Homo sapiens: one gene and its partners. The protein of the gene in region 1 interacts with the protein of each later gene in a pairwise test. Each region holds a gene or a part of one and is shown in the gene's direction. Other genes may lie near its edges.

Region 1 (5,189 bases):
GATTGCCATTCTAACTGGCATGAGATGGTATCTCATTGTGTTTTTGATTTGCATTTCTCTAATGACCAGAGATGATGAGCTTTTTTTTTTTTTATCATATGACACACAGTTTTCTAAAGTGGTTGTGCCACCTTATACTTGCACAAGCAGTGTCTGAGAGTCCAAGTGTTCCTCATCCTCACCAGCACTTGGTTTTGTCAGTCTTTTACATTTTAACCATTCTAGTTGGTGTGAAGTGGTATCTCATTGTGGTTTTTACTTTGCACTTGTGACAACTAATTATTTGAAGACCTTTACATGTGCTTATTGGCTATTCTTATATTTTTTATGTGTCTGTATGAAATGTCTATTTAAGTCTTTTGCCCCAATTTTTAATTGGGCTGCTTGTCTCTTTATTATTGATTTGAGGAGTTACTTGTATATTCTGGACACAAGTTGTTGTTTGTTCAATATATGAGTGAAAATATTTTCTACCAGTCTGTAGCTTGCCTACTATTGATTTTCCTAACTGTGTCCTTCAGTGGGCTGGCTTTAAGATTTTAGTGAAGAGATTTTGGGTTCAGTGTTAGGAGTAATGGGCCCTCACCCATTTTATAGTTGATAATGTTAATTTTTATTGGCGTACTGATGGGCATTATAACCACACTTTTTTTTCAAGGCATTGTATATTATCGTAAAAGAAAATTTCCAAGGGAAAACTCGAGACTTTTCCATAGTAACAGTGATTGTGTTATTGGGTTTAAGGATTACAGATATATTAGATCTCTTTGAGTAGCAACTGCTAGTGTGTAATAGAAGCCCATGTGGGAAGATCAAGTCCTGTCCTTTGCCAATTATGTATTCTCCTTTTCCAAGAAGCTGTGGCATAATCATAAATGATACAGTGCAAGAGGGGACATATTCTATATGCTGCCCAAGTCAAGTCCAATAGACACTGGGGAATCCAGCCTGGGAAACAGTAACAACAGCAGCTTCCATTAGTATTTTCCCCAAGATCTGATGACAGGCTGCATCCAAATTAACAATAAAAGGAAAGAAGCCAAACTTCTCTTGGAGAGAAGAAGGAATTCCCCCTAGGTAAAGTGGCATCATGTGATATTAAACATTGACTCATAAAATGGGTCTCGGGAAATGCTTTCAAGCTTGACTTGGAATAACAATAGTTAAAGAACAGGGTTTCTCCCTTAGAGTTCATATGTGAACTTGTTTACCAGCCAACTCTGACATATCAGCTACTTGAATTGATGCTTTGTTCTAACGCTGATAATTATTGCCTCTAATCTTTTATATTTGCTTTTATATTTGCAATAAGATTTTGATTTTCTTAATAATCATGGCTCTCAAGTTGAAAAGCCTGCATAATCTCTAACTTGTACTAAGTAAATACTGGCTTCTCAGTTGACTACTATCAATTTTTTAATTATTTGGAGTAATATTTGTAATAATTAACTTTAGAGAAAAGCACATGGAAAATCTTTGTGTGCATATTCTTTAGTACCTAAAGTGTTCAGAACTGAAAAAAAGACCCATTTTTATGTCCATTTACATACTGTGATTTCTGGATAGTAAAGGCTCTGAGCTCCTTCATGTCCCTGTGTTTCACTTATATTCCAGAGTTCTGTATTTGTTTATTTGCTGCTGATCCCACAAAACTAAAGGAAAAAAAATAAGAGTGGCTCAAGGAGGAAATAGCTAGGGCTTAGTGTAATGTGTGGGTGGAAGATAAGGGAGTAAGAATTATTTTCAAAGAGAGAAAAATAAGGACTTGAGGTTATTGAGAAGACTTAAGAGTCAGTGGCATCCCTCAGCACAATTTTAAGAAGTCTAAAATGTGAAAAAAAGTTTGTACATTGAAAACACGGTTCTGATCTTTTTTTAAAAAAATGTTCTCTTGGAAGGGAATATGAGTTTTTAAAATCAGGTAAAACTCTGTCTGAATTTAGCTGTTATCTTTTACTAACTGTCCATTCTCTTGCCATTTCAGGTAAACCTCTTTGTGCTGCTCTCTGTGGTTTGTGTCCTCTTAAATCTAGCTGGATTTATCCTAGGCTGCCAAGGGGCCCAGTTTGTGTCCAGCGTGCCCAGGTGTGATCTGGTAAGCAGTCCTAAAACATCACTGTGCATCTAGGCAGACCCTGGCTTGTCAGGTGTTCCTGGCGAGACTTGCAACATTCAGCATCAGGCAACTGTCCTGAAGTGAAACCTGAAATGGGTAAAGGGAAGTGGGAAAACAAAACAAAGAGCTGCCTGCTGATTATTTCACCCAAGTTGTCGATTACTTTTTCCAAAGCAGGGACCAGCCAGCAAAACACTGGAACCATAGTGATATAATGCATCATTAGTTAGTGAATGGATGGATCAGATGTCCACAATCAATCAGTCTCTGACTGTCCTCATCTAAAAAGAAATAAAATGGATATTGCCAGAATACAGGTCAACAGTCTTTTATCTGAAACCTTTGGAGGCCAGGTGTGTGTCAGCATTTAGAGTTTTTCCAGTTTTAGAAGATTAAATATTTTGCATATACTATTTATTATGTAGCATGCCAGTGGAGTCTGGGACAGCAGGCTGTTATCATGACTTCTGGTTTTCAGAGCTTTTTGGATTTCAGCATTGTGAGTAAGAGGTTGTGGACTTGTACCATCTCTGAACTTAAAAGAAAATAAATTTTATTGTGGTAAAATACACATAGCATGAAATTTACCATCTTAACCATTTTTAAGTCTACAGTTCAGTAGAGGTAAGTATATTCACATTGTTGACAACCAATCTCTAGAACTCTTTTCATATTGTAAAACTGAAAGTCTATGCATATTGAACAGCAACAGCTCCCCATCCTCCAGCCCCTGGCAATCACCATTTCACATTCCGTTTCTATGAATTTGAGTATCCTAGGTACCTCATACAAGTAGGATAATATGCTGTTTGTCTTTTTGTGACTGGATTATTTCACTTAGCATCATCTCCTCAAGGTTCATCATGTTGTAGCATGTGTTAGAATTCCCTTCCTTTTTAAGACTATATAATATTCCATTGTATATACATGATACCTTTTGTTTCTCCATTTATCTGTGATGGATATTTAGGTTGGCCCCCACTCTTGGTTATTGTGAATAACATTGCAACGAACATGGGCCTGCAAACATGTCTCTGAGATCCTGGTTTTAATTCTTTTGGATATATAACCAGAAGTGATCATTTGGTAATTCTATTTTAAATTTTTTGAGGAAACTTTGTATGGTTTTTCATAGCAACTGCACCATTTAATATTTCCATCAACAGTGCACACGGGTTCCAATTTCTGCACATCTTCACTGACACTTGTTATTTTCTGCTTTTTTTTTTTAAAGTGGCCATTCTAATGGGTATAAGGTGATACCTCATTTGGTTTTGATTTGCATTTTCCTTATGATTAGTGATGTTGATAGTCTCTTCATATGCCTGCTGGCTATTTGTATGTCTTCATTAAAGGAAGAATGTCTATACAAGTCTTTTGCACATTTTAAAATTGAGTTATTTTTTTTTTTGTTATTGAGTTATAGAAGTTCTTTATATATTCTGTATATCAGAATATATATACCACAAAACCAACACTGTGATTATTTCTGATGTTATAATTATAAAAGTTTGGGCAAGCCATGAAAAGTATAAGGCAGAACTTAAATATCATTTGAATTCCCACTATCCCTGGATAACAATTTGGCCATGTGTTAAGCATCTCTTTATGCACAAAAACAGACATAATCAACAGGATCATGTTGTAAGTGTTGTTTTCCTTTGGGGAAATTACTGACAAATGAAACCTTTTTGGGCAAGGGGTTGCTCTTCTCTTCTCTTTCCCACTCTGCCCATACCTGTCACCCCAAATCCTTAGTAACAGGCTGGGGAATTATATTTCATAATGTTTTCATGGTCATGTAATCTTACATAAATATGTATGGAGTGGGGTCGTTCATGATTTTTTTTTAAATGAGGTATATTGTATGTACTTCCCTGCATCCTGTTTTTATCACTTAAAGATGTATCACTTAGAGATAGATTAAATACAGACTAACACCCTTAATTTCTTTTACCAAGTTAGTTCCTTATTTTGTTATTGCCTGTTGTGGCTTGGGTTTTGACCAGTAGACACAGTGCTGCCATTAATATCATTCTGTATATCCTCAGGGAGATTTTAGTCCTAAGCGGAGTAGGTTCCCAGGACAAGGAATTGTTCTCAGCAGTATCTTTTCTCCTGCTTATCTCATTTATTATTACAAATTCAACCATTTTATTGTTCTATCCATCGCTTTTAAATTGGGGTAGAAGTTACAGTGAAAAACACAAATCTTAAGTGTGCAGTTCATTATAAGTTTTGACCAATGTATACATTCATTTTGACAAATGTATACACTCATGTTATACTCCAAACAATTTCTATACTCCAAACAAAATATTGTTTGTTGTACTCCAAACAATATTTCTGTCACCCTAAAAAGTTCTTTAGTGTCTCTTTTCAGGCAGTCTCTACTCTCTCATAGGCAACCACTGTTCCTGTTTCTTTCACCATGGGTTAGTTTTGCATGTCCTTGAACTTCATGTAGATGGAGTCACACGGTTTGAAAGTTTTTGTGTCTGACTTATTTTGCCCAGTGTAATGTTGTTGAAATTCATCCATATTTTTATATTGTATCTGTTGTTTGTTCCTTTTTTCAGGACACTATTTCATTTTATAAAAATACCAGAATTTTTTTGTTTTTTTGTTCTCTTGTTGATGGACAGTTAGGTTGTTTCCAGTTTGGGGGTATTATGAACAAAGCTGCTGTGAGCATTATTGTTTTGGGGAGGCAGTTTTCATTTCTCTTGAGTGAATACCTAGGCACGGAGCTGCTGGATGATGCGGTGCTAAAGAGTTTTCCAAAGTGGTTGGGGAAGTGAGTATTTTTAATTTAAAATGGATAGTCAGTTCCTTCATTAAAGGGCTTAAACTCACCAGTGACTGGTGAATTTCTACCAGTGGCTCTCCACGTCTCCACCAGCAAAGAGAGTTTCTCTCTTTTTAAAGTTGTGCCAGTCTGATGAAGCCAGAGTGAGAGCTTGCTGTCACTCTAATTTGTAGTTCCCTGAGTGCTTAAGATGGCATCATCATTTTTTAAAAAGCTCTCCAGAAAATTCAAATGTACAGGCAGGATTAAGAATGCTGCTATTGA
Region 2 (5,189 bases), on another chromosome or scaffold:
ATGATTTTTCCAGATTTAAAGATACCTTAATTAAGCGGTTGACAGATCTCTCCTTCATTCTTACTCTAAGGTGTCATGTCTTTGCATAACTAAGAAAATAGAAGCAATCCTAAAAGGTCTTTTGCAAAGTTGTACCACCATATCTGTCCGTCTCCTACCATCTCTCCTCCCTCCTGTTCCTATAGATGAACTGTCATTGTTATTATCAAAGTCTCGTCCCTCTGCTGGTACATTCGATTCCTACCCCCACTTTTCTACTTAATTGCTCCAACAGTTATCACCTTTGTGTTGCATTATCAGGTTTTATTTCTCTACAAAATTATTCTTATCAGCTGTTATTTCTCCTAGATATAAAAAAAAAGCAAAAAAAAAAAGAAATTACAACTCTTCCCTTTACCAATGTGTTCAATCGCAGTTCATTTTTTTGTTTTTTTTTTGAGACGGACTTTCGCTCCTGTTGCCCAGGCTGGAGTGCAATGATGCGATGTCAGCTCACTGCAACCTCCACCTCCTGGGTTCAAGCGATTCTCCTGCCTCAGCCCCCTGAGTAGCTGGGATTACAGGCACCCGCCACCACACCCAGCTAATTTTTGTATTTTCAGTAGAGATGGGGTTTCGCCATGTTGGCCAGGCTGGTCTCGGACTCCTGACCTCAGGCGATCCACCTGCTTTGGCCTCCCAAAGTGCTGGGATTACAGGCGTGAGCCATCACACCCAGCCCACAGTTCATTTTTATTGCTCCCCTTTACAGGAAAGCTACTTGCATGGTTGTCTCTGTATTGCTGTTCATAGTTTCTCCTTTAAACCAACTCCAAGGAAGTTCCCCTGACACTGAATTTGCAAGGGCACCAATGATCTTCACATTGTTAATCCAGGCGTTGGTTTGCAGTCCTGCCTGATTTGACTTACCAGGAACATTTGACACAATACATTTCTCTCTCCTGGCAAAAGTAGTGCTGTGAGCCATACTTTCTTGATTTCCCTCTGCGTTTCTGTTCTTCTATCTTTATTTTGTCGAGTCCTCCTTTTTTTCCTAAGCCTCTTTTTTTTTTTTTTTTTTTGTTAACTACATTCATTCTCTTGATGCATCTTACTCAGTATTATGCTTTTAAAACATGTGCCTGCTAATGACTCACAAATTTAGCTCAGACTTCTCACTTGAAATTTTGCTTTCTATATTCAGCTGCTTATTGACATCTCCACTTGTAACTCCTTCTTGGTAGGTCCTGTAAAACCTGCTCTCTGGCCAGGCATGGTGGCACACACCTATAATCCCAGCACTCTGGGAGGTTGAGGCGGGTAGATCACTTGAGCCCAGGAGTTTGAGACCAGCCTGGGCAACATAGCAAGAGCTAGTCTCTAAAAAAAAAAAAATTATAACAACAACAACAAAAACCCAGCTCTACCTGTGATATTCCCTGTCACAGTTGATAACTCCACTCTAGCAGGTGCTTGGGTCAAAAATTTTGAAATCACCTTGTTATGGTGGCTCACGCCTATAATCCCAGCAGTTTGGGAGGCCGAGGCGGGCAGATCACCTGAGGTCAGGAGTTCGAGACCAGCCTGGCCAACATGGTAAAATTAGCTGGGCGTGATGGCGTGTGCCTGTAATCCCAGCTACTCAGGAGGCTGAGGCAGGAGAATCGCTTGAACCCAGGAGGCAGAGGTTGCAGTGAGCCGAGATTGCACCATTGCACTCCAGCCTAGGCAACAAGAGCGAAACTCCATCTTAGGAAAAAAAAAAAATGTAGAATCATCCACAACTCCTCTATCTCTCCTACCTTACAAACAGTCCATCAAGAATTCTAGTTACCTCAACTTCAAAACATATCTAGAATCCAGCTATGCCTCACCACCCCCATTGCCACCATTTTGGTCCAAGCTACCATTATCTGTTGCCTGGCTTGGTAGCAGAGTCCTCTCTCTGCTTTCTTCCCACACCTTGTACAATGTTGTTACTCTCCATACAGCACAGAGACTGAATTTCCAAAACAAAATTTAATTAAAAGTCATTTATTTGCACAAAACCCTTCAGTGGTTTCCATCTCAATAAGAGTAAAAAGCACACTTTACAACAGCCTAAATGGCCTTACAGGATCTGACCCCTCTTATCTCTTCAACCTCCTCTTGGTTTTCGCTCCTCCTCATTCACCGTGTTCTAGCTTCATTGGACGCTAGCTGTGCCTTCAACACCTTCAGCTTCCACCTTGGGTCTTAGCCTTTATTCCGTCTGCCTGGTATGCTCTTTTCCCGAAACTCCATATGGCTTTTGCCCTCTCCTTCATGTTTTTGCTCAAATGTCACTTTGTCTGTGAGCTCTACTCCTTTTACCCTTTTGAAAATCACAAAATGCTTCTCATATCACTCCTTATACTTTGTCCTTTTAACAATGCCTTTTTTATTGTTTTATTGTTCTAGGTCAGGAGTGATAAGACATTTGTACTTTACTTATTTATTATATTTTTTTGTCTTATCTCCTTCACTAGTATATAAGCTCCACAAAACAGGCATTTTTACCTATTAATAAGTAATGCTGTCACTGTCTAGAAGAAAGCCAGGTACCAGCTATGCATTCAGTAAATGCTTTTTGAGTAAGTGAATTCACTTGAACCTGACAACACAAGAGAACATTTTTCATCTGTTCCAAAGTGTTCCTTAACATTATGAAAGTTCTTTGTGCCTGTCAGGCCCTCAATCAATAGGCAAGAGATCCAGGCTCTGTCACTGTGAGTCAAACCATATTGTAAAACCTGTATTCCTAGGTGCCGTGCCACCAACTCTGCCTTTTCTCTCACTGACCACGTGAACCGTGTGATCTGGATGACAATGTTGTTTCTAGGAATTTGATTTTGCTTTGCTTATTATCTCCAGGAATATTTGTTTGGGTTTTAGGTTAGGCTTAGGATGTGGTAGAATTTCCTTCCACGTCTCTTCTGTCTGGAGCCTCTGTCCTCCTTAGATTTAAGGATTATCGAAGATTTTCTTTGAAATAGTCTGTAGTAGACTTTGATATTTCATTTAACTCACTAACAAAAGATCCAGCCATAAATACAATGTCCTTCTTTGTGTATATGTGTGTCCTGTTGCTGTAATAGTCCCCATTACTTGAGCTTCTTTTGGCCCACCATGTATGTATACCCTTCTCTCCCAGCAGAAATCTTCCTGTGGTATTTTGTTGGACTTTAGTACACTCTGATTTTATACTGAATACTAAATATTCAACTTTATTATGAGTTAATTTGGTTTATTTTTGTTTTTCTTTAGAACTAAAGGTGGTCCACAAATTGCTTATGAACGCGGCTTTAGGTGGAAGCTTGCTCACTTCCGTTATTTGTGCCAGGTACTATAGTGGTAAATAAATCTTATACTCAATAATTTAGTCTTCTCTTTATACAATACATATACTATAACTCAGATGATATTATGATATTATTTTTGTTTTTAGTCTAATGCACTACCTAGTCATGTAAAGATCAATGTGTCCCGGCAGACATTGTTTGAAGATTCCTTCCAACAGGTAAGGAGGATTTTAGCAGAATAAAACACCATTTGTCTCATTGTATTCTGTGCATCTAAAGAAAGTCAGGGTTTTAGAGATTTTTAAACCACCCAGAACACAGCTATAATAATAATGACTGCCACCACCACTTGTTGAGTGCCTTTGTTTTGTTTTGTTTTGTTCTGTTTTCTTAAATAGAGATGGAATTTCGCCATGTTGCCCAGGTTGGTCTCAACCTCTGGGCTCGAACGATCTACCCACCTCGGCCTCGTAAAATGCTGGGATTACAGGCTTGAGCCACTGCATCTGGCCTGAGTGCCCATTTTAATCATAGTTACACTAAACCTTCCCATATACTGAGTGATTATCATTTGCAAAACACCGGCATCTTACATTTCTCATTTTATTTCATTCGTCCTCACAGCATCCCTTTGAGATAGCACTTATTGTATCTCCATGTTATAGGTAAAGGTACTGAGACTGAGAGACATATCATGAATTTAGATGTGTATTTACTAAAATAAAGCTTAAACAGCTTTTGGAACAAGTTGATTCTTGTTTTGACACAATACTTGGCTAAGAATTTATTACCTCAAAGTTTTGATAATGCTATCAAATTAAAATTAAATTGGTAGATACTGTATTCCATTTGAGAATTCCTTTAATAACTTTATTTTCACCTTTATGTTTCTGTTTAAATGTGATCTCAGAGAGACCTTCTCTGAGCCTACTATTTTAAGATGGCAGTCCTTCTCTTCTCCCTCACAGTCACATTCCAGCCATTTATGGTGCTTTATTCTTTTTCATAACCACCCAACATAGTGTATTTTGTCTTCCTTACTAGAATGTGAGCTCCATGAGAGCAGGGACTATTGGTTTACTGCTGTTCTGCCTAGTACGTAGAATAGTGCCTTTGCACATAGAGGGTATTCAATAAATATTTGATGAACAAATAAATGAATGCAGTATTTCTTCCTTTCATGAGTCATCTGCAGAATATTTAAGGATAAATAATCCAAATACTGTATTGTCAGTTTTTGCCCAATGAAGTGGAGAATTTTTCATAATGAGACGTCTTATTCCCCCCCTAGTATTATAATGATGAACCAAATTATGCTGTGTACTCAGGCATACAGGGACTTTTATTTATACTTTGTACAAGCCAAAATGGAGTAATGATACTCTGAGCCCCAAGAGAATTTCAAACCATAGCTTAATTTTACGATTGGACTTTGGGCATGATACTTAAACTATTATCAAGTTGATTTTTTTTTTTTGAGTTAATAAATTCTTAGCAAACTAAGTGTAAATAGGTCAACTTTTTCTAAACTCTGGATTGATTTTAGTAAATGTACATCTGAATTCATGGTAGACTTTATTTTGCTTTTTACCCTGTCTTGGGAAGAATCATGGTCTATTTGATGTATAGCACTGAGCCCACGACTGCCTCCAAGGAGGCATGCTGGTGAGCTGTGCTCCAACCCAGACTTGCCAGTCTTGGCTCTGGTCCTGACATATGTGTGGAATGTAATTTATTTCTATCCAAAGTAAAGCCTACTTACTAGTAACCTTGATGTAAGCTATTAAAGATTATGAAAATTTGGTATACGTATTGTTTTTAAGTTATACTAGCCTGTGAATAAATTCATCATTGTATAAATAATTGCTCATTATAGCTGAGTTCCTTTCC
Region 3 (5,189 bases), on another chromosome or scaffold:
ATTTACACATACATCTCTATCAGTATCTATATGTTATTAACACAAGAAAACAAAAGCCTCTGTATCTGAGCCCAAGTTACTTTGTAAAGCCGTCTCTTAATGTTTTTTTTTTTTTTTTTTTGAGACGGAGTCTCACTCTTTCGCCCAGGCTGGACTGCAGTGGCGCTATCCCGGCTCACTGCAAGCTCCGCCTCCTGAGTTCATGCCATTCTCCTGCCTCAGCCTCCCGAGTAGCTGGGATTACAGGTGCCCACCACCACGCCCGGCTAATTTTTTGTATTTTTAGTAGAGACGGGGTTTCACCGTGTTAGCCAGGATGGTCTCGATCTCCTGACCTCATAATCCGCCCGCCTCGGCCTCCCAAAGTGCTGGGATTACAGGCGTGAGCCACCACGCCTGGCCTCTTAATGTTTTAAGCTTGTATAATTAAAAAACGAACTTTTTCCTTCTATACTTAACATTTGCACTCTCCGTTTTCCAGAGCTGCTTGCTTCCTGTGATTGCCAGATGTATCTATAGGCCTGCAGTAACTTTCTGTGAGGTTTAAGGAACAGGCTTTTAGGCCTGTAGATAGAGCTTTCTGTTCAAGTTTCAGTCATAGGAGAGGCTGTCATAGAGGTCTTGAGAATGCTCTGAAATCGTTCTGGGAATACACTAAATCTCCCCATATGAAATTAGAGAATCGTTTTTCATTGCTTGCATTGTCCAGGTAATTAACCTGGTTCCTATGTGGGTCAAAGATATAAACTTAGCCCAAATAGCTTTAATATTTGTGTGGCTTAAAACAAAACTAAACAAAGTAAAACCATTATCTACACCCAACAGAATAGCACTTTCTTTGGGTAGCATGTGGATAGGAGAGTGGAGAGTAGCTAAGACAAGAAGCGACAGTTTCCTCTTTCACACTAGAATATCCTGTTGTGCTCTGTAGCATCAGACATCGATGAGTCATCAGTGATGCAGCTGGCCGAGATGGGTTTCCCGCTGGAAGCATGTCGCAAGGCTGTGTACTTCACTGGAAATATGGGCGCCGAGGTGGCCTTCAACTGGATCATTGTTCACATGGAAGAGCCAGGTAGGTGGCGAGAAAATGGAATGGCTTTGGAGTCTGATGTGACCCTCAGTGATGCTGAGTCCTGGTCCTTCCAAGGTCCCTGTGGATGTATCCCTAGAAAATGACTTTATAGTTCCTAATCTCCTGCAGTGGAGGAGAAAGCCAGTCTTTTTCTTCTTCTTTTTTTTTTTAAAAACAGCAGCTTTAGGCCAGGCGTGGGGGCTCATGCCTGTAATCCCAGCACTTTGGGAGGCCAAGGCAGGCGGATCACGAAGTCAAGAGATGAAGACCATCCTGGCCAACATAGTGAAACCCCATCTCTACTAAAGATACAAAAATTAGCTGGGCATGGTGGTGCGTACCTGTAGTCCCAGCTACTCAGGAGGCTGAGGCAGGAGAATCGCTTGAACGCAGGAGGCGGAGGCTGCAGTGAGCCAAGATTGCACCACTGCACTCTGGCCTGAGTGACAGAGCGAGACTCTGTCTCAAAAAAACAAACAAACAAAAAAACAACAAAAAAAACCCCAAACAGCTTTATTGAGATATAATTCATCCCTTTAAAGTGTATAAGTCAGTGGCAAAAAGACCAATAGAAAGATACGGGATATACTTCTAACTAAGCGATGATGAAAATTTGAAATGGAAACATGGGCATGAAGAAATGGAGGATGTTTAGTTAGCTTTTTCTTTTATCTACTTTATTAAGCTATAATGCATATATTCATCTGTTTAAAGTGTACATTTCAATGGTTTTTCATAAATTCACAGTTGTGTAACCATTACCACTATCAAATTTTAGAACATTTTGTACCCTTCAAAAGAAATCTCATACATAATAGCAGTCACTCCCCATTTTCCTGCTCACCCCAGCCCCTGGCAACCACGAATCTGTTTTCTGGATCAAGGGATTTGCCTGTTTTGGACATTTCATATAAATGGAGTCATATAATAAAAGGTCGTTTGTGTTTGGTTTCTATCACTTAGCATAGTGCTTTCAAGATTCATCTATGTTGTAGCATGTGTCAGTACTTCATTCCTTTTTACGGTAAAATAATAGTCTGTTGGGTCGGGTTTGGTGGCTTACGCCTGTAATCCCAGCACTTTGGAAGGCCAAGGCAGGAGGATCATTTGAGGTCAAGAGTTCAAGACCAGCCTGGCCAACATGGTGAAACCCCATCTCTATTAAAAATGCAAAAATTGTCTGGGCATGGTGGCGGGCACCTGGAGTCTCAGCTACTTGGGAGACTGAGGCAGGAGAATTGCTTGAGCCCAGGAGACGGAGGTTGCAGTGAGCTGAGATCACGCCACTGCCCTCCAGCCTGGGCAACAGAGTGAGACTCCATCTAAAATAATAATAATAATAACAATAATAATAGTCTATTTTATGGGTATACTATATTTTATTAATCTTTATCAGTTCATGGACATTTGGGTTATTTACATTTTTTGGCTTTTATGAACAATGCTGCTATAAACATTTTTTACAAGTTTTTGTGTGGATGGACATTTATTTTTACTTCTCTTGAGTGGAATTGCCATGTCATATGGTAACTCTATATTTAATTTTGAGGAACGACCAAACTGTTTTACACAGTGGCTGAACCATTTTACATTTCCACCAGTAATGAATGTGAGTTCCAATTTCTCCATATCATCACTAACCCTTATTATTATCTTTTTTATCATACCCATCCCAGTGGGTATGAAGTGGTATCTTGTGGTTTTGGTTTGCATTTTCCTAATGACTAATGATGTTGAACAACTTTTCGTATGTTTATTGACTGTATATCTTATTTGGAGATATGTCTATTCAAATTCTTTGCCCATTTCTAATGAAGTTATCCTTTTATTATTGAGTTCTAAGAGTTCTTTACAAATTCCAGATACGAGTTTCTATGAGATATATGATTTGTGTTTTCCCCCCCATTCTGGTGTTTTTTCACTTTCTTGATGGTATCCTTTGAAGCACAAACATTTTTAATTTTGATGATGTCCAATTTATCTTTTTTTTCTTTTATCACTTGTGCTTTTTGTGTTGTAAATAAGAAACCATTGCCTAATCCAATGGCAAAGACTTACTCCTGTGTTTTCTTCTAAGATTATTATAGTTTTAGCTCCTATATTTAGGTCAATGAGCCATTTTGAGTTAATTTTGTGTATGATGTGAGGTGAGGGTCTGACTTTATTCTTTTGTATGTGGATATCCAGTTGTCCCAGCATCATTTGTTGAAAATAATGTCCTTTCCCCACTGAATGGTCTTGTTGAAAATCAGTTAACCACAGGTATATGGTTTTATTTCTGGAATCTCAATTCTATTTAATCGATCCATATGTCTGCCTATATACCAGTACCAGACTGTCTTTTTTTTTGAGACAGAGCCTTGCTCTCTTGCCCAGGCTGGAGTGCAGTGGTGCAATCTCAGCTCACTGCAACCTCCGCCTCTTGGGTTCAAGCGATTCTTGTGCCTCAGCCTCCCAAGTAGCTGGATTACAGGTGTGCACCACCATGCCCTGCTAATTTTTGTATTTTTAGTAGAGACAGGATTTTGCCATGTTGGCCAGGCTGGCCACGAACTCCTGACCTCAGGCGATCCACTCGCCTTGGCCTCCCAAAGTGCTGGGATTACAGGCATGAGCCACTGCGCCTGGCCCAGACTGTCTTGATTATTATAACTTTGTAGAATCATGTTTTTCCTTGTTAGTGTTGTTTCAGGACAAAAAAAAAAAAAAAAAAAGGAAAAGACTTGGGTGTGGTTATTTTTCTCAGATTTTGCTGAGCCGCTGACCATGCCTGGTTATGGAGGGGCAGCTTCTGCTGGAGCCTCTGTTTTTGGTGCTTCTGGACTGGATAACCAACCTCCAGAGGAAATCGTAGCTATCATCACCTCCATGGGATTTCAGCGAAATCAGGCTATTCAGGCACTACGAGCAACGGTGAGCATGAGAGACTGTGTGTGTGTGTGTGTGTGTGTGTGTGTGTGAATTTATTTCTGTAGCAGTTGAGACTTTCCAATGTACTTTGATCATTTTGATTCATGTTTGATTCATCTAACTGTGAATCTCATCATAGCCCATAAAGATTTATTTGCATATTATAAATATAAAGCTAAAATGAATGATTTTCACACAGCGAATGAGATAAATAAATCTGGGGTAATATGAGCAAACTGAAAGAAACTTGATATCATCTTGAATGTTTGTTAACAGGGGGTCAGAAATTTGACTTGGAGGCTGCTTGTGGCCCTAGAGGAAAGAGGGATGCATGAAATTCCATGTTCAGTAAGAAGTCCTTTAGGAGATAGAATGCTTTTCTGATACCAAGACCTTGGGTAAATGTCTCTTAAAAGTCCTCATAGAAAACTGAATGGCTCCTTGGAATTCTCTGCTGCTGTTTCTCTCTGCAGAAAGAGAAGGTTCTTCTGGTAGCCATGAACTTCTTGATACCAAGAAACAAGGGACTCTGAAACTACAGGGTAGACAATTCCCTTCTGCAGTGCTGATATCTGTTTAATCTTGAGGGAAGGTACTTAAAAAACAAAACAAAACCCATCCTTCCTGGTCACACCATAATCCATTTTTGAGTAGATATCTGCTCTCAATTACTTCTTGCCTATCCTGATGGGGTGCCTGCTAGGATCCGTTGCTGAGGTCACAGTGGCTCTTGATTGTCTCATGAGGATGTGGCTAGGACAACCTGTCTCCCTTTAAGATGATTAAAATATCTCAACCAGAGTTTGTTTTACTTGGGGTACTTTCTTGTGCTCCACTCATTTTATTTGCCTGACTGTTTCATTAGAGGTTTTATATCTATACAAATTCTTTAACCTGCCAGAAATATCACAAGCTGAGAAAGATGGAAATATTTTTATGGTCAATTAGTTTGAAGTACATGGAGTTCAGTTTAAACAATTATACTTAACTAATCAGTGTTGTTGTCATTAATCAAGATATTAATCTTGTCTTTACTGGAATTCAAACATTTTACCAACATTCCAGGAGAGAAGGCTCTAACATAATACCACACTGGCATCCCTCTATTGTTCAGTTATCTGCAGAAAATACAGTTGGTAGAGAAGGTAGTGTGTGCAATTAAAGTGGCTTTAGAAAGAGCTGCACTTAAACAAATGCCATACCC
Region 4 (4,795 bases), on another chromosome or scaffold:
TCACAGATAAACAGAAGTATTTTACCCCTTCTTTTACTTTTCAAGAGGGGAAAATTGTCAGAAGGATAGTCAAGTACTAGAAATACTCATTTTGTCTTTTGTTTGTTCACGTTGCACTTCACACCATATATACTTTTTTTGGTGCTCCTTCCCATGACAGACTTAACTGACCCATTAATAGCAGCTCTGGGGCAAGCATGCCTACCCAGTAACATAAAGGCTTCCTCAGTGCCGGCTGCGCTTGGGGATATGCTGTTAGTTCATGACATGAGAGCAGCTAACGGCTGCTGAGAGATAAAAAGGAAATAGGCAATTTAGATGATGTGCCTGGTTTCAGTGTTAAATGAGCCTGTGTGTTTGGCTGTTGATGTAGCACGTACAGATCTCTAAAAACTGCTGGGATGCAGCCATGGGAATCCAAATCAGTGTTTTCTTTGTGATGAAAACTAGATGCACAAATTTTTAGAAGTCTCACTTGACAACCTCTGAAATATTTAACTTTGGATTTTGTTCCTCTATAGCAGAGTTTTGAGGCTTGTAGTTTAGTGCATTGCTTTGCTTTAACACGTGTTAATCCAGTTGGACTTGCTTCCCCAAGAATATGCATATACAAACTCACACATACTTTATTAGTTTTTCATTATGATTTCTGTATATCATGCAATGGATGTATCTTGTCAGAGAGACTGTCTTTCTTGTAATTAAGCTTACAGTTATTAAATGAGAACGTTTGGGACAATAATGCAGTCTGACAGTATTGAAAGTAGGGCCAGGCACAGCGGCTCACGCCTGAAATCCCGGCACTTTGAGAGACCAAGGAGGACGGATCACTTGAGGCCAGGAGTTTGAGATCAGCCTGGCTAACATGGTGAAACCCTGTCTCTACTAAAAAATACAAAAATTAGCTGGGCATGGTGGTGCACACCTATAATCCCAGCTACTCAGGAGGCTGAGGCATAAGAATTGCTTGAACCCAGGAGGCAGGGGTTGCAGTCAGCCGAGATCGCGCCACTGCACTCCAGCCTGGGTGACAGAGTGATGACTCCATCTCAAAAAAAAAAAAAGCAAAAAACTGGTCACCCAGTCTGCAGAATGATAAAGTCAGTAAAAGTTACCTACGTATATAGGTTTGAAAAGGTCTACTGTTCTCAGCTTCATTTACACATACAGGTATGGTAAATGGTATGTGTAAATGGTATGTCTCTATTCCTCTGAATACTGCTTTTTATTTCAAGAACACCACAGTGTTAGTTTATAGTGAAATACTCTGCAAAGTTTCAAACATGTTTATTTGAAAGTCTAATTAAATGATAGCAGAGAGAAAATTTCCTGAAGTGTAATCTTCTTTTATACTGTCAGTATGTGCTTGATTGAATTAAGGAATTTATATTTGGTTTTACTTTTCTTAAAAGTTCCAAAATTATTTTTCCCCTAGGAAGATGAGAATGTGCCTACTGCTCCTGATCCTCCAAGTCAACATTTACGTGGGCATGGGACAGGCTTTTGCTTTGATTCCAGGTAGTTTTCTTCTTTACTTTGTAGAATTTGGGTTATATCGGCCAGTGGTTCTCAAAGGTGGTCCTTGGGAACTCATTAGAAATGCACATGTGTAGGGCCTGGCCTAGCTGAACCAGAAACACCAGGCGTAGGCCCAGCAATATGTGTTTTAACATGTCCTCCGATTTAGGGAGTTTTGTCAGAAAACATTTTTAACTTGCAGTATTTAAAAGAATATTTACTGTTCCTAAAATGTCATTCAAATGCATGTATTGTCTGTTGTTTGGGGATGGGAACTAGTTTTGCAAAAAACACCTAATGTTGTATAATAATGCACCAATGATCTTGCTGGTTAAAAATACAGTATTTTTGGCCAAAAACAAAAACATGTCCTCCGACTGATTCTGATGCATACAAGCATTTGAGAACCAGTGCCATAAAAACTTTGCTATTAAACCAAATGCACTGGTGGGAAGTTATGAGTTGTATTTATCCTTACAGTCTTACAAAAGGCATTTTCTGTTAAACGTGGAAGAATTCTTGGTACTAATTTCACGTAATTGTGATTGGATTTGGGAGGTTTTAAGGGGGAAAAACGGTTTTGTTAATCTAATTGTAAAATTGAATTTAGAGGCTCTATAAATGGGTTACACAATTGTCTACAGCAAGCATTTAGAAGCAGAGAAATGTTTCTGGAGTAAAGACTTTTAAGGTAGGTTGTTTAGTATGAATATCAGCTAACTAGATAAATGGAACCTTGTCATATATGGACAAGTTGTTGTTCTACATTTATTAGAAACATGTAATTCTTTCATTTTTCTCTTTAAGCTTTGATGTTCACAAGAAGTGTCCCCTCTGTGAGTTAATGTTTCCTCCTAACTATGATCAGAGCAAATTTGAAGAACATGTTGAAAGTCACTGGAAGGTGTGCCCGATGTGCAGCGAGCAGTTCCCTCCTGACTATGACCAGCAGGTGTTTGAAAGGCATGTGCAGACCCATTTTGATCAGAATGTTCTAAATTTTGACTAGTTACTTTTTATTATGAGTTAATATAGTTTAGCAGTAAAAAAAAAAAAAAAAACCACACCTAAAATAGACCACTGAGGAGACCATAGAGCGGATGCTTTCATGCACCCTTTACTGCACTTTCTGACCAGGAGCTACTTTGAGTTTGGTGTTACTAGGATCAGGGTCAGTCTTTGGCTTATCAATAAATTTTAATCTCTGTTAATCTTACCTGCTTTAAAAAAAAGTTCTTGTGTGTTCGTATCTTTATTTATTCCCTAGTTTGCAGAACTGTCTGAATAAAGGATACAAGGATTATTTCAATGTTACTGCACTGAAAAACGTGTATGTATTAGTGTGCTAGATTATTTAGCAGAATATTCACAAGTTTCTGTTGACCTTGTTGATTGAGCATGACTACTAAATATTATGTAATAAAAAGCATTTGTCATAACAGTCTTATGAAGTAGTTCTTCGAATATAGAAAGTTCTATAATTTAGCCCATGAAATGATAGGTTTTTAATTTTCAGAAATGGAGCTGCATGTAGAATGAGATCACATGCTTTTATATGTGAAATATTGGTTTTAGCAATTAACAGAAGGCATACTTTGCTAATTTTATGGCAAAATTTTAGAATAACCTGAATGATTATTTTTAAACTATCTTGAAGTTGTATGTATATATCTAATGGGAAAATGGAACAAGAGATGTCAGTATAATTGTTTTCCTATTAAATGATCTCATAACAGGGGTGTTTGTGGCATAAAAATCATAGAATATATATCAGTATCTTTTTTACATTTTCCTGATGAGAATATAAATTTGAAATATTCTCAGTAAGTGATTAAAAGTACAATACATAAACCCAAATCAAAGTAATGTGTTTCTTCAGTTATGTCTGTGCTGTATAGAACTGTCACTAACATTAAAGAAAGAGGACACATTTTTCAAGATCTGTAATTTCATTGTTGTCAAATTTATTTGTGAAAGTTTTTCATTAATCTAGCATCTTGAACATCTTTTTTTGGTTTGGGCCTTTAAAATACTTCTGAATTGTATTCCCTTTCCCTTTTATAATGTGCGTGTGAATAATTTAAAGCACCAACTTTTGATTTTGCCGCTTTTGTAGTTATCATCAAAATAGTTTACATTTGTTCTGAGCAAACTAGCTATTGAAGATGTTAACCTAATATTTAGACTTGGTGGCATTTTGAGTTGCTATATGTGAACTGCAGCATATCATGTCGTCACTTGTATTTGTTTGTGGAAGCAGAGTTTGTATATTGTTAGAATCCTTTAAAAAGTTTTTTGAGTCTAGGGCAAACCAGTATGAGGCATTCATATGCCAGCTGTTAGGACACAGCAGTCCTAGGAAGCAATAGCTTTGGAGACTTTCAGCTTCCAGATAGGTTATATACTTAGGTAAAATATGTTCAACAATGGGAGCATTTTTGTTGGAGTTAATAATTATGGACCATGTTAATCCAAAAGTATCCTTGGAATATTTATTATAGTAGTAGACACTGTTCATCTTACTAGCCTAGAACTTATTTTAAAATAGTTTAAGTAAGTAAGTCCAAGCTTAATTTGTTATTGACAGAAAAGTAATACAGCCTAATCTAATCTAAGCAAAAATGTAAGGGAATAAAGTCTACATGCATCAACTGAACAGCCTTAGAATGAGGAACTGAATGGATATATTAATTTCCATGGTAAACTTGATACTGGTTTTCATAATGGACACTAAGGAAAATAAAGAGCCATATTTATTTTTGGGTCAGAGGCAGTTTATTTTAAATGTGATTTCATTTACATTTATAAGCAGCTTTTCTTGACAGGAATTTTGATTAAATTGCCTTCAGTTCTAAAACAAACCTCTGTTGCTTTCAGACTTAATGTGCTCTGTCCCCAACAAAACATATGAAAATATAATTTAAAGCACAGTTTTCACAGACACAGTACAATACATTCACTATACACAGTATAACAAAATATTCCCATCCTTACCTGTTTAGTAATACTGTCACAATGAATAAGTAAATAGAAATTGGAATTTATCTTTGAAAGCATTGAAAGAAATTTAACATGCACAATGACTATTTTATGACTGTTTAGCTGTTGAACTACTGATCCAGCCTGCAGTTTCTTGCACTAGAAAGAGCGAAGCTAAATAATAATTGCTGGCCTAAAAAATTTTTTTTGGTCAATTGTAGGTAGATATGAAATAGCCAAGTGGGGCCTTCTTATGCACCAACTAGTTGCGTCTCATGTCTGGATCACCCTTTTAAAC

Evidence for each region. The genes of interacting proteins can lie anywhere in the genome.
Region 2: the proteins of ENTREP1 (region 1) and WWP1 interact in binary tests that used the Homo sapiens proteins (3 or more experiments, as listed by UniProt).
Region 3: the proteins of ENTREP1 (region 1) and USP13 interact in a two-hybrid assay, tested with the Homo sapiens proteins (one large-scale study listed by IntAct).
Region 4: the proteins of ENTREP1 (region 1) and TAX1BP1 interact in a two-hybrid assay, tested with the Homo sapiens proteins (one large-scale study listed by BioGRID).

Annotation. Positions count from the first base shown.
Region 1 is NC_000009.12:69,369,515-69,374,703, forward strand, and holds part of ENTREP1 (endosomal transmembrane epsin interactor 1), read left to right. Parts: intron 1-1,984; coding exon 1,985-2,095; intron 2,096-5,189. UniProt on the Homo sapiens protein: Functions as an activator of the E3 ubiquitin protein ligase ITCH in the ubiquitination of the CXCL12-activated CXCR4 receptor. Thereby, triggers CXCR4 endocytosis and desensitization, negatively regulating the CXCL12/CXCR4 signaling pathway.
Region 2 is NC_000008.11:86,432,188-86,437,376, forward strand, and holds part of WWP1 (NEDD4-like E3 ubiquitin-protein ligase WWP1), read left to right. Parts: intron 1-3,264; coding exon 3,265-3,340; coding exon of another isoform or gene 3,341-3,349; exon of another isoform or gene 3,350-3,351; intron 3,352-3,445; coding exon 3,446-3,517; intron 3,518-5,189. UniProt on the Homo sapiens protein: E3 ubiquitin-protein ligase which accepts ubiquitin from an E2 ubiquitin-conjugating enzyme in the form of a thioester and then directly transfers the ubiquitin to targeted substrates.
Region 3 is NC_000003.12:179,760,181-179,765,369, forward strand, and holds part of USP13 (ubiquitin carboxyl-terminal hydrolase 13), read left to right. Parts: intron 1-931; coding exon 932-1,075; intron 1,076-3,821; coding exon 3,822-3,988; intron 3,989-5,189. UniProt on the Homo sapiens protein: Deubiquitinase that mediates deubiquitination of target proteins such as BECN1, MITF, SKP2 and USP10 and is involved in various processes such as autophagy, endoplasmic reticulum-associated degradation (ERAD), cell cycle progression or DNA damage response.
Region 4 is NC_000007.14:27,826,303-27,831,097, forward strand, and holds the end of TAX1BP1 (tax1-binding protein 1), read left to right. Parts: intron 1-1,435; coding exon 1,436-1,518; intron 1,519-2,325; coding exon 2,326-2,527; 3' UTR 2,528-3,465; downstream 3,466-4,795.